2 separate regions of the Homo sapiens genome follow, and region 1 is linked to region 2. Evidence: fine-mapped expression QTL. Tissue or cell type: esophagus muscle. Region 2 holds a variant in brackets; the other region holds the start of a gene. All regions are shown on one strand. Distances are between the middles of the regions.

Region 1 (5,149 bases), 51 kb before region 2:
TTATCATAAATGGTACAGTCATGAAGGATGCTGTTTAGGAAGATAGAAGTCAGTGTACATTTTGGAAAATTCCTATCAGGTAAAATAGTTTAGCTTTAGAACCTAAAAAGATCAAGTTCTCTCATGCAACAAACTCACTCATGAAAACCTTCATTCTCTGATGATAATACATAAATAGGCTGTCACTATTACACAGAATTTCTGGAATTTTTTTGGATTAAATAATAAAATTAAATAATTTCAATTTTTAATATCTGCACATAATTACAGTAACATAATCAAAATTTATAAACTTATTTTAGTCTGAGAACTTTTTAATTAAAATGCACAAATAGACCGGATGCTGTGGCTCACGCCTGTAATCCCAGCACTTTGGGAGGCTGAGGTGGGAGGATCACTTGAAGCCAGGAGTTCAAGACCAGCCTGGGCAACACAGTGAGACCCCCGTCTCTACACAATTTTTTTTTTAAATCAGCCGATCATGGTGGCACACGCCTGTGGTCCCTGCTACCTAGGAGGCTGGAGGATTGCTTGAGCCGCAGTGTGAGGCTGCAGTGAGCCGTGATTGCGGCTGCTGCACTCCAGCCTGGGCAACAGAGCAAGACCCTGTCTCAAAAAATAATAATAATTTAAAAAGCACGAATATTCTAGCAATACTTCATTAGTATACCTACAGATTATAATAGATTTTTAAAAACCAATAATCCAACCTTTGCTGTCAAGGAAGATATATCCATCAAAACGATCTCTAAAAAGAAGGATGTCATCAGGATTCCTAAAATTAATGTATGCTCTTGAGTAGAGATGAGGATAAAGACTGAAATAAGAGATAACAGTGAAAATGGTCAGTGAAAAATACAATAGTCCATTAATTTAGCCTCTTTTTCCTTTTCTGGGCACAACAAACTACTTTAGATAAAACTTTTGTGCCAAATCATCTCAGTTAATTGTAACAACTTGGATATTCTTTAGCAAAAACAAACGCAAAACGTTAACTTTACAAGGCAGAACTCAGGTCCCTTCTCCACTGCCCAGAACCGGTCCTCCGAGGCTGAAACCCTAAGGCAAGGCCAGGGCGCACTCCCAGAGGAACCCGTGGCGCCGAGAGACTCTCCTGACTTGGGGACCTTCTCCGGTATTTAAAACCGCACTGGCTGCGGCACCAGCGTGGAGGCCACAGGAAGAGCCGGCGCCCCCCGGCCCCGCAGCGCCCCGTCCGCGGACGAGCAGGGAAGCCCGGGAGGCGCCGGGCGGGCAACGCTGGTCCTTTCAAAGGCACCCGCTTTCCTAAGCGTTAGCCGTCTGAAAATCATCCGCATTTTTCATGTAAACCACATCTGTGTTTCTTTGTTGGTGGTATTTTTCTTTGACGGAACGGACACGTTTTACTGAAATGTATTTATTCAAAAAGCTCACACGACTCCCATATAGGAGAAATCAGGGTAAGGAACGTAAGGCAACGAGACGGCCACCGCCGCCGAGCTCTGGGTTCCGCCCTCTCTTCCTCCCCTCGGGGCGGGCCTCACCTCAGGTCGGCGGCGAAGAACTCGAAGTAGTCGTGTGCTGGCAGCGGGCGCAGCTGCTCCTCCAGCTGCTCCTTGGTGAGGCCCGGAGGCAGGCGGCGGATGACCACCTGCGGGGAGCGCGCGGCCGTTCCCACCGGGGCGGAGCGTGGACAAGGAGCTCAAAAGGCACCGCGTACCGCGCTGGGAGGCCCGGCCCCCGCCCCTCCCTCCCCTCCCTCCCCTCCCTCCACTCAGGGCCGTCCTCTCCTCGCGAGGTTTGCGCGCCCCGCCCCCGTCCCCACCTTGCTCAGGGCCGTCCTCTTCTCCTCGCGAGGTTTGCCCGCACCGCCCCCGCAACCGGAGGACGAAGTTGGCGGCGTCTCAGCCTCCTGCTGCTGCGAGTCGCGGTGGAACTGCACTTCTAGGGCCGACAGCTTCTCCCTCCCGCTCGGGCCCCGCGCGGCAACGGCCGCCCGAAGGCCTCCGGCCCCCTCCTTTTCCGAGCGCATGCCGCACTCTCCGCCGAGCCGCAGCCGCCAGCCCCCGACGAAACCTCGCGAGAGCTCGGCCGCCCCAGCCCCGCCCCTCCTCGAGCCGCGGCGGTCGGGGCCGCCCACGAAGGGGTCAGGCGCTGCGGGACTAGTCGGGGTCGGGGTGGTGACCTCCGGCCACACAGCCTGGCTTTCCGCCGGGTCAGGCGGCCCCTCAGGGAGCGGCGGCCGCGGTTTAGGGCGGCCCCGGAAGCGGGGCGCCGGCGGCTTTGGTCCGGGCGTGGTGGGAGGAGTTCGCGGACAAGCCGCCCTCCCATCCCAGCACCGTTTTTATCCCACTCCCCCAGGCTCTCCGTGGCCGGGGCGCCATGAAAGCCGGGTTCACATTTGAATTCTTAATTTTTTTGGAGACAGTCTCGCTCTGTCGCCCAGACCGGAGTGCAGTGGCGCGATCTCGGCTCACTGCAGCCTCTGCCTCAGCCTCCTGAGTGGCTGGGACCTACAGGCACGCGCCACCACCCCTGGCTAATTTTTTTGTTTTTTTAAAGTAGAGACGGGGTTTCACCTTGTTGGCCAGGATGGTCTCGGTAACTCCTGACCTCAAGTGATCCGCCCACCTCGGCCTCCCAAAGTGCTGGGATTACAGGCATGAGCCACCGCTCCGGGCCCTTGCACATATTTTTTTATGAACACACAGGCAGCAGCACTTTGATTACAGTAACTTACATGGAAGTTATTTTAAAATGGCTTTCCCCTTCTCTTTTTCATGTAGGCTGCATTTTTCATCTGCAGCACGCTTTCTCTCAAGAATCTCAAGCACACACAAGAAACCAGAGAGTAAAATCACTGAGGCGTGAACACATCCAGAGACCAAGGGCGTCACTGGCAGAAAAGCTTTTAGGCGGATCCACGGCCCGAGAGCCACCCTGCCCAGAGACGCGGTTTCCTAGGAGCAGTTCACACGCGGCTCTGCAGCACCCACAAGCGGGGCCAGGGGCTGGTTTTCATAGTTCACAGTCTGCAGGGATCTTAACAAAAACATGGCCGTGGTAAAAGTGCCTAGACCAGGCTTTCGTCACAACTCAGTGAGTAGGAAGACTAGTTAGGCTGATGAAAAGCTCTGATGATGTGTGATTAAAAGTAGGAAAACGTGGTTGCCAAATAAAATATTTTACTATATAGTCAGGGGGAGAGATGGGGATAAAAAAATGTGGAAACCATTTATTTTAAAATTTTGACTGTTCCTGCAGTGTTTAAAATATAGGAGATATATTCTGATTATCTTTAGAAAGAAACTGCTCTCAATCTATTTGTATGTCTTCCCTCTGGTTTTAAAATATTAAACAATCATCTAACTCAATATTTAATTTTACCTCTAGTCATGTTACTAGGTTAGGATAATAAAAAGGACTGTGAACTTCACATCTGCCATCTATAATAGATTCTTATTGTAGCAATCTTGCACCAAGGGGATTTCTTTATTAACTCTGCCAAATTTTCCAAAATTACCAAATGGAGAAAAGAGCTGGTCCCATCTGTCACCAGGCACAACCAGGTCAGTAACTTAGGGTATTTCTTGTGTTCATGTTTTGCCCTCACCACTGCAAAGCCCTGTTCTCGGCCTGGTGCCTCTGCACACCTCTGAAGCCAGGTTGGCCTCAGCCAATGTGAGGGACCCTTCATTTGACCTTCCCCAGAACCTTGAGTATTTCCACTTCTCCCTTCACTGCACTGTACCCTAAAGGGACTCACATGTTTGCTGGATGTGTATATTTCGTAAACCTAGCCAGCAAAATGTCCAAATGTTTTTCCCCCCAAGTCAATTTTTTAACACCCTTCTGATTCTTTACTTCCTGTTATTGCAAAGTTCTGAAAAATGATTTTGAAAAAAAGGTAGGATTTTAGAATTCAGCTGTTTGATGAAATTATCTTTAAATAAAACCATATGAATTTTAAGATACAGTGAATGAAATACACTTGTAAAATAGCTTATGATTTTACATGACAAATTATATCACAAAGAAAAGCTAGCTTCCTACACATTAGCCAGCCTGTTGAAATGCTCTGTTTGATACATGTACAGAACTTTACAGCCAAAGCAAAGCAGGAAGAAATATCTCCAAATCCTTCTTCATGTGGGCTTTTAGTATGTAACTTTACTTTTGCTTAACTGAACACTTCCATCTGTGAATGTGGCCCTGGGCTACATTTTACTTGGTAGCCCCTATCTCATTGGTAGATGACAGTGACTTGAAGCTGGTGACCGTAACACTTCCCAGTATTTCCTTTAACGATAACACAGCCACTGTAGTTAGCAAACAGGACACCTTTTTAGGATAAACTGTGTCCTGAGATACTGAAGAATTGGGTAGTAACAGGAACAATACTTGGCAGTACGACACATTGTTTTTACTCTCAGAGGCCTAAACACTGGTGTTAACACTGCTGCTGATCCGAATTACAGCTTACTCAAGTGTCTGAACCTTTTGACATTCACTTACAGAAACCAGAAAAATTCTAACAGTGATCAATGAGAAAACTAAATGGTTTTTTTTTTTTTTTTGCTCTGGCAGGAAAAATAAATGTAAAAAACTCAGCACTTTATTAATATAATACTTTCATTTTAGTTGTTTTAAAAATAATTACCTTAAGTTCAGTCACTTGATTTTTTAGCCCCAACTCAAGACAGGGGAGGCATACATGATGCCTGACAGAGAGACAGAAAAGCCATTTAAAAATGAAAACATGAAAACGCATTAGTTTGAGTCTAATTTAGCGTGGGGTAACTCATGGTCTCTAAATGTATTACTGCATTAACTTCCAGCGCGATACCTGACTTTCACCATGATGAATGGAGACAGGATGGGGTCTGAATGCTAGTCTTCAATGCACCATACAACAGTGCTAGACCCTCATCAGTATGAAGGGGAACAAAGCCCTCCTTAAAAGATTTACTAGAGTTAACACCTGGGGATCCTCAAGAAATGAATGCTATCATTGTTCTGCTTCAGAAGGTAGAAATACAGGGAATACACTTCAGATAGGTTAAGATAAAAAGTTTTGTGTTTAAGGCAGCACCTCAGTTGCCTGGAAAATTCACTTCTGTATAATGCCTAATTTGTTAATGATGCCGTGAATAGATGCTTTCTAATA
Region 2 (5,149 bases):
TAAGTTTCTCATCTCTATCTGAGACCTTATCAGCCTGCCCATCTCTCCATATCACTATCAGCATTTGGGTCACAACAATTTAAAAGTCTCTAGGAAGTTCCAAATTTTCCCCCATCTTCTTGTCTTCTTCTGAGCCCCCCACATTTTTCCAACCTCTGCCCATTACCCAGTTCCAAAGTTATTTCCGCATTTTCAGGTATCTTCATACGAATGCCCCACTTTTCAGTACCAATTTTCTGTATTAGCCTGTTCTCACATTCCTGTAAAGAAACACCTGAGGCCAGGCCCGGTGGCTCATTCCTTTAATCCCAGCACTTTGGGAGTCCGAGGCAGCTGGATCATGTGAGGTCAGGAGATCAAGACCAGCCTGGGCAACATACTGAAACCCCATCTCTACTAAAACTACAAAAAATTAGCCGGGTATGGTGGCAGATGCCCGTAGTCCCAGCTACTCGGGAGGCTGAGGCAGGAGAGTCACTTGAACCCCAGAGGCGGAGGTTGCAGTGAGCCAAGATTGCACCACTGCACTCCAGCCTGGGCAACAAGAGTGAAACTCCGTCTCAAAAAAAAAAAAGATAAAAAGAAACACCTGAGACTGGGTAATTTATAAGAAAAGAGGTTTAATTGGTTTACTGTTCTGCAGGCTGTACAGGAAGCATAGCTGCTTCTGCTTCTGTGCAGGTCTCAGGAAACTTACAATCATGGCGAAAGGCGAAGGGGAAGCAGACACAACTTACCTGGCCAGAACAAGAGAAAGGGAGAGAGGGGGCAGGTGCCACACACTTTTCAACAACCAGGCCTCACAAGAACTCACTCACTATACAGTCCCAAGTAGAGGATGGTGCTAAACCCTTCACGAGCACTCCACCCGCACGATCCAACCACCTCCCACCAGCCCCACCTCCAGCAGCAATGGGCACTCCACCCGCACGATCCAACCACCTCCCACCAGCCCCACCGCCAGCAGCAATGGGCACTCCACCCCCACGATCCAACCACCTCCCACCAGCCCCACCTCCAGCAGCAATGGGCACTCCACCCCCACGATCCAACCACCTCCCACCAGCCCCACCTCCAGCAGCAATGGGCACTCCACCCCCACGATCCAACCACCTCCCACCAGCCCCACCGCCAGCAGCAATGGGCACTCCACCCGCACGATCCAACCACCTCCCACCAGCCCCACCTCCAGCAGCAATGGGCACTCCACCCACACGATCCAACCACCTCCCACCAGCCCCACCGCCAGCAGCAATGGGCACTCCACCCCCACGATCCAACCACCTCCCACCAGCCCCACCTCCAGCAGCAGGGATTATAATTCCACATGAGCTTTGGTGGGGACACAGATCCAAACCACATCACATTCTAATAGAATGACCTGGAGTCTCTATATTTGGTTAGATTTCTTGTGCTTTTCTTCCCTTCTATACCTGTAATAGCCTACAGCAAAATCATGTTTACTGATTTTAGAATGATGCCCCTTAGGTTTGTCAACCTTAGATAGAAAGATTCAGAAAATACGAGTTAGCATGGAGTTTATTTGAGCACAAGCCCTGAGGATGACCACCTGGGAGCACAGATTTGAATTTCCCTGAGTATGCACCCAACCAGCAGCAGGTACCTGGTTGGGGGCGGGGGGTTTAAGGAGGAAAGAAAGGGCAGTTCCTGAGTTGTTTATCAAAAATTTACATTAAAACAACGTAAGCTATTGATTGACTATACATTTTTCTTTGTCTCACAGACTCCAGAAACATGAAAATAATGGGTGACACAGCAGTCAGGAACAAAATGCCTTAAACAATTGCCCCTGTGGCATGGGGAGCAGAGTGACTGAAGTTAGTCCCACACTCATGTCCTGATACATTTTGCATCCTTCAAATAGTTCAGACTGCTCTGAGCTATTTTTCTTTCCTCAGGTTAAACCTTCCATCGTTGTATTTCCTCTACCACACTTACTAATTGGTTAAACTGATAGGGCTCATAAATATTGTGTATTACCTCACACGACAAAATGGACTTTGCAAGGGGTGATTAAGTTAAGATGGGTTATGTGGGTGGGTATGATGTAATCACAAGAGTTCTTACAAGTGAAAGAGGGAGGCCGGGGGGTCAGAGTCAAAGAGACTGGAAGACGCTACGCCGCTGGCTTTGAAGATGGAGGAAGGAAAGAAGGAAGAACAGTGAGCTGGGAGTGCAGGTGGCCTCCTGAAGCTGGGAAAGGCCAGGGACGGGATTCTCACCTAGATGCTCCAGGAGCACAGCGCTGCTGACACCTTGATATCCTGCAGAGACCCATTTCAGGTAGTGATCGGAGGTTAGCAAACAAAATTAGAACTCTGCCAAATGTGTACATGCC[A/C]GAGGCTGGCTTGTCTAACAGAAGACATTCTGTTTATTTTCCTCCCCTTACATTCTCTCCCAGTATTTGCCCTTGTTAAAGAAGCTAAAATTTCAGGACCCTCTAAAGTTACTACAAGGGGGAAGTTAAGCCCTGGAGACTGAGTCACAGAGCATGTTTGCAATTCTGCAATACTGAGTTTTGTGAAATTCAGTGTGTAAAAATCTTTGTTTTGTGGTTTTAAAAGATAATTCCGTCCTTAAACTAGTTCCTGAAATACGGTCAGGAAAACAAGACTTGGATTTTCAGTATGACCAGAATATTAAACATGCCAAGTGGTTTCTCAAGAATTTAAATTACTCTGAAAGGAAGAGAGAACAATCACCCTTCTCACTGATTAGAGTGAGGTGGTATTGTCGCCACAGGAGAGCAGTTTACAAAGTTAGAGAATTCTGTTGGCTGAAACTGCAAAATGTTGAGGCTTTGAAAGAGCAAAGGCAGTGATTAAGAAGTCAATGATTGGCAGATACGTCTTTGTTGTCATTTTACAAAGACAGTTCTCAAGTTTGGAATTAACATCTATCCAAACATCAAGTCTCAATTCATCTTGCATTTCTCCACACCCTGTGGCTGCAAATCTGCTCCAGCGCTGCCTTGGAGACCTGTCCAGGTGCACCTGGACGCCACAGACGGGGCCATAAGCGTCGCCTGCAGAGTTGGGCAGAGGAAGCTCAGAGCTTCCCCGCCGGGACATGGGCACCACAATAACACTCTTAAAAAGAAAAACCCTCTGGGTTAATACCTTTCCTTTGAATTAACCTCCATCCAGGTAAAAAATGATTGATAATTAATGTTTGTTAATTAAAATTGAGGCATTCTGTTGGCTTATAAATGTTAAGCTTCGTGGCACTTACTGATGTGGAAAATAAGACCCAGCAAGGCTAACTTACCTAAGCAAGTTCCCAAAGCCGCACCTAAAACCAAGTCCCTGAGCTGACAATGGCCTCTTGGGTGTTGTACCCATTTGTGAGTATACCTGGGGTTTTAAGGCAAAAGCAGGCTGTGGGGACACCAAGAACATCAGCCTGGGGTTTGCAGCTTCCCCACTCTCCATGCCTCTTCAGAGACAATGCCCTCTGGGTGGCAGTGATCGAGTTCTGCCAGTGCGGGGAAGCTCTGCGGGGTGAAGGGAAGCCTGGAGAGGAATCTGCCAGGCCTGGCGTCCCAAGCATCACCTCCTGAAACTTCAGTAAAAGGACTGGGAGGCTACGGGAAGCAAGCTGAGCCACCCGGACAGAGCATCCTGAGGTGCCGGACGCCTTTTCTTCCTAGCATCCTGTCCCACCACCCCCAGGACACTGCAACACTAGTCATCCTGCACAGGCTCCCGCTGCAGCTTCTCAAAGACTGCTGTCCACAGACACGGGTCCAGCCCCGTCGACATGAGGGTAACAGCCAATTCAGAAGTGTCATAATCTCTAGCTGGTTATCTGATTATCTTTTTAGTATATCAAATTAACTGAATAATGCCCTCGTTTTGTGTTAGGTGGATATGAACTTTGTCATGAGCCATGAAAGTGTTCACTGGTCTCAATTTTGATGTCAAATTTGGGAAAGCACTTTCTAGTACAAGTTGTTCTTCTGATTGACTCATCCACGTGTACTTTGGTCTCCTGTGCCAGTGTTCTGCCAGGAGCGGGTGACGGAGTGCAGATTGTGGAGGGCCCTGCGAACACAGGCTTGACGCCTGTGGAGGCCACAGTGGCGGTCCTCAAACGGACGCCAAGATGGAACTGAAGGATTTGGTTGAACCAGTGGATAGGGGAGGGAGTGGAGGTGGGAGAAGGCCCAGGGCATTCAGGGAATGCAAAGAAACCTAGTCTGGCTGGAACGCAGTGAGTGAGGGCCCATAAGATGAATGAGGAAAAGCTTCCTACAGTGATGTGTGAAAAAAACAACTGCCTCTGGATAGTTTGCAATGCTTACAGGTGTTGCTCAGTGTCAAAAATATTTTATTAACACACAGCTTGCTTATGCCAAGACATGTTATCATTATTGTCTGAAACATAGTGCTGAGGATAATTTTTAAAAATGACAGCAGTATATCACTGAAAAAAAGCAGGAAATCATCTAATCTGGAGATAGACACACACACACACACCCCCCACACTGGTGCACACCCCCCCACAGACACACTACACATCGCACACTAGTCCACACACACCACACACAACATACCACACCCCACATACTAGTGCAAACCCAACAGACATACTCCACACAATATACCACACACACACCCCACAGACACACACACCACACACTAGTGCACACCCCTCACAGACACACTACACACTGCACACTAGTCCACACACAACATACCACACACATACCCCACAGACGTCACACACCACACACTGGTGTACACAACACAGACCACACACACACACCACAGCCCCCCTGCCCAACACCACACATATAACTATGCTTATGAATTGCTGATTTCAGTGAATGTGGCACTTGGTGATTGGTTACATTCTTCTTGATCAGTCCTCCTTATTCTGAGTTACTTTGTATGTATTGAGAATTATACATTATTTTGCCACAATTTATGATTTGATGAAAATATTGGGAAAAACATGAGAAAGAGTGATGGGGTGTTGGAATTGTGGGCTCCTTAAAATTTCTCCTCAGCCTTGTAGAAAATGAGAAAATCTCCAAGTGTCTGGTTAATTTGCCTGGGTACTTCAGTCAGCCGGATCTTTTTTGTTTGTTTGTTTTTGAGACAAGATCTCCCTCAGTCACCCAGGC

What was found. PIP is the estimated chance that this variant, and not a neighbour inherited with it, causes the effect.
Region 1: it holds the start of UPF3A, and the variant in region 2 is fine-mapped to the expression of UPF3A in esophagus muscle (GTEx, PIP above 0.99). The same link has a PIP of 0.9 or more in visceral fat.

The regions. Positions count from the first base shown.
Region 1 is chr13:114,278,505-114,283,653 of GRCh38, reverse strand. UPF3A (UPF3A regulator of nonsense mediated mRNA decay) reads right to left here and starts at 2,053. Exons shown (of 10, transcript NM_023011.4): 1 at 1,808-2,053; 2 at 1,527-1,633; 3 at 711-817. The coding sequence starts at 2,014. LOC105370384 (a long non-coding RNA gene) reads left to right here and starts at 2,585. Exons shown (of 4, transcript XR_007063887.1): 1 at 2,585-3,551. RefSeq lists silencers at 1,036-1,245, 1,626-1,805, 2,036-2,305 and enhancers at 1,385-2,072, 2,526-2,825.
Region 2 is chr13:114,227,231-114,232,379 of GRCh38, reverse strand. No RefSeq gene overlaps it. Among named protein-coding and RNA genes, the nearest start is that of CDC16, 5.1 kb to the left of the region's middle. RefSeq lists an enhancer at 3,547-4,048. The variant A/C (reference allele first, on the strand shown) is at 2,360.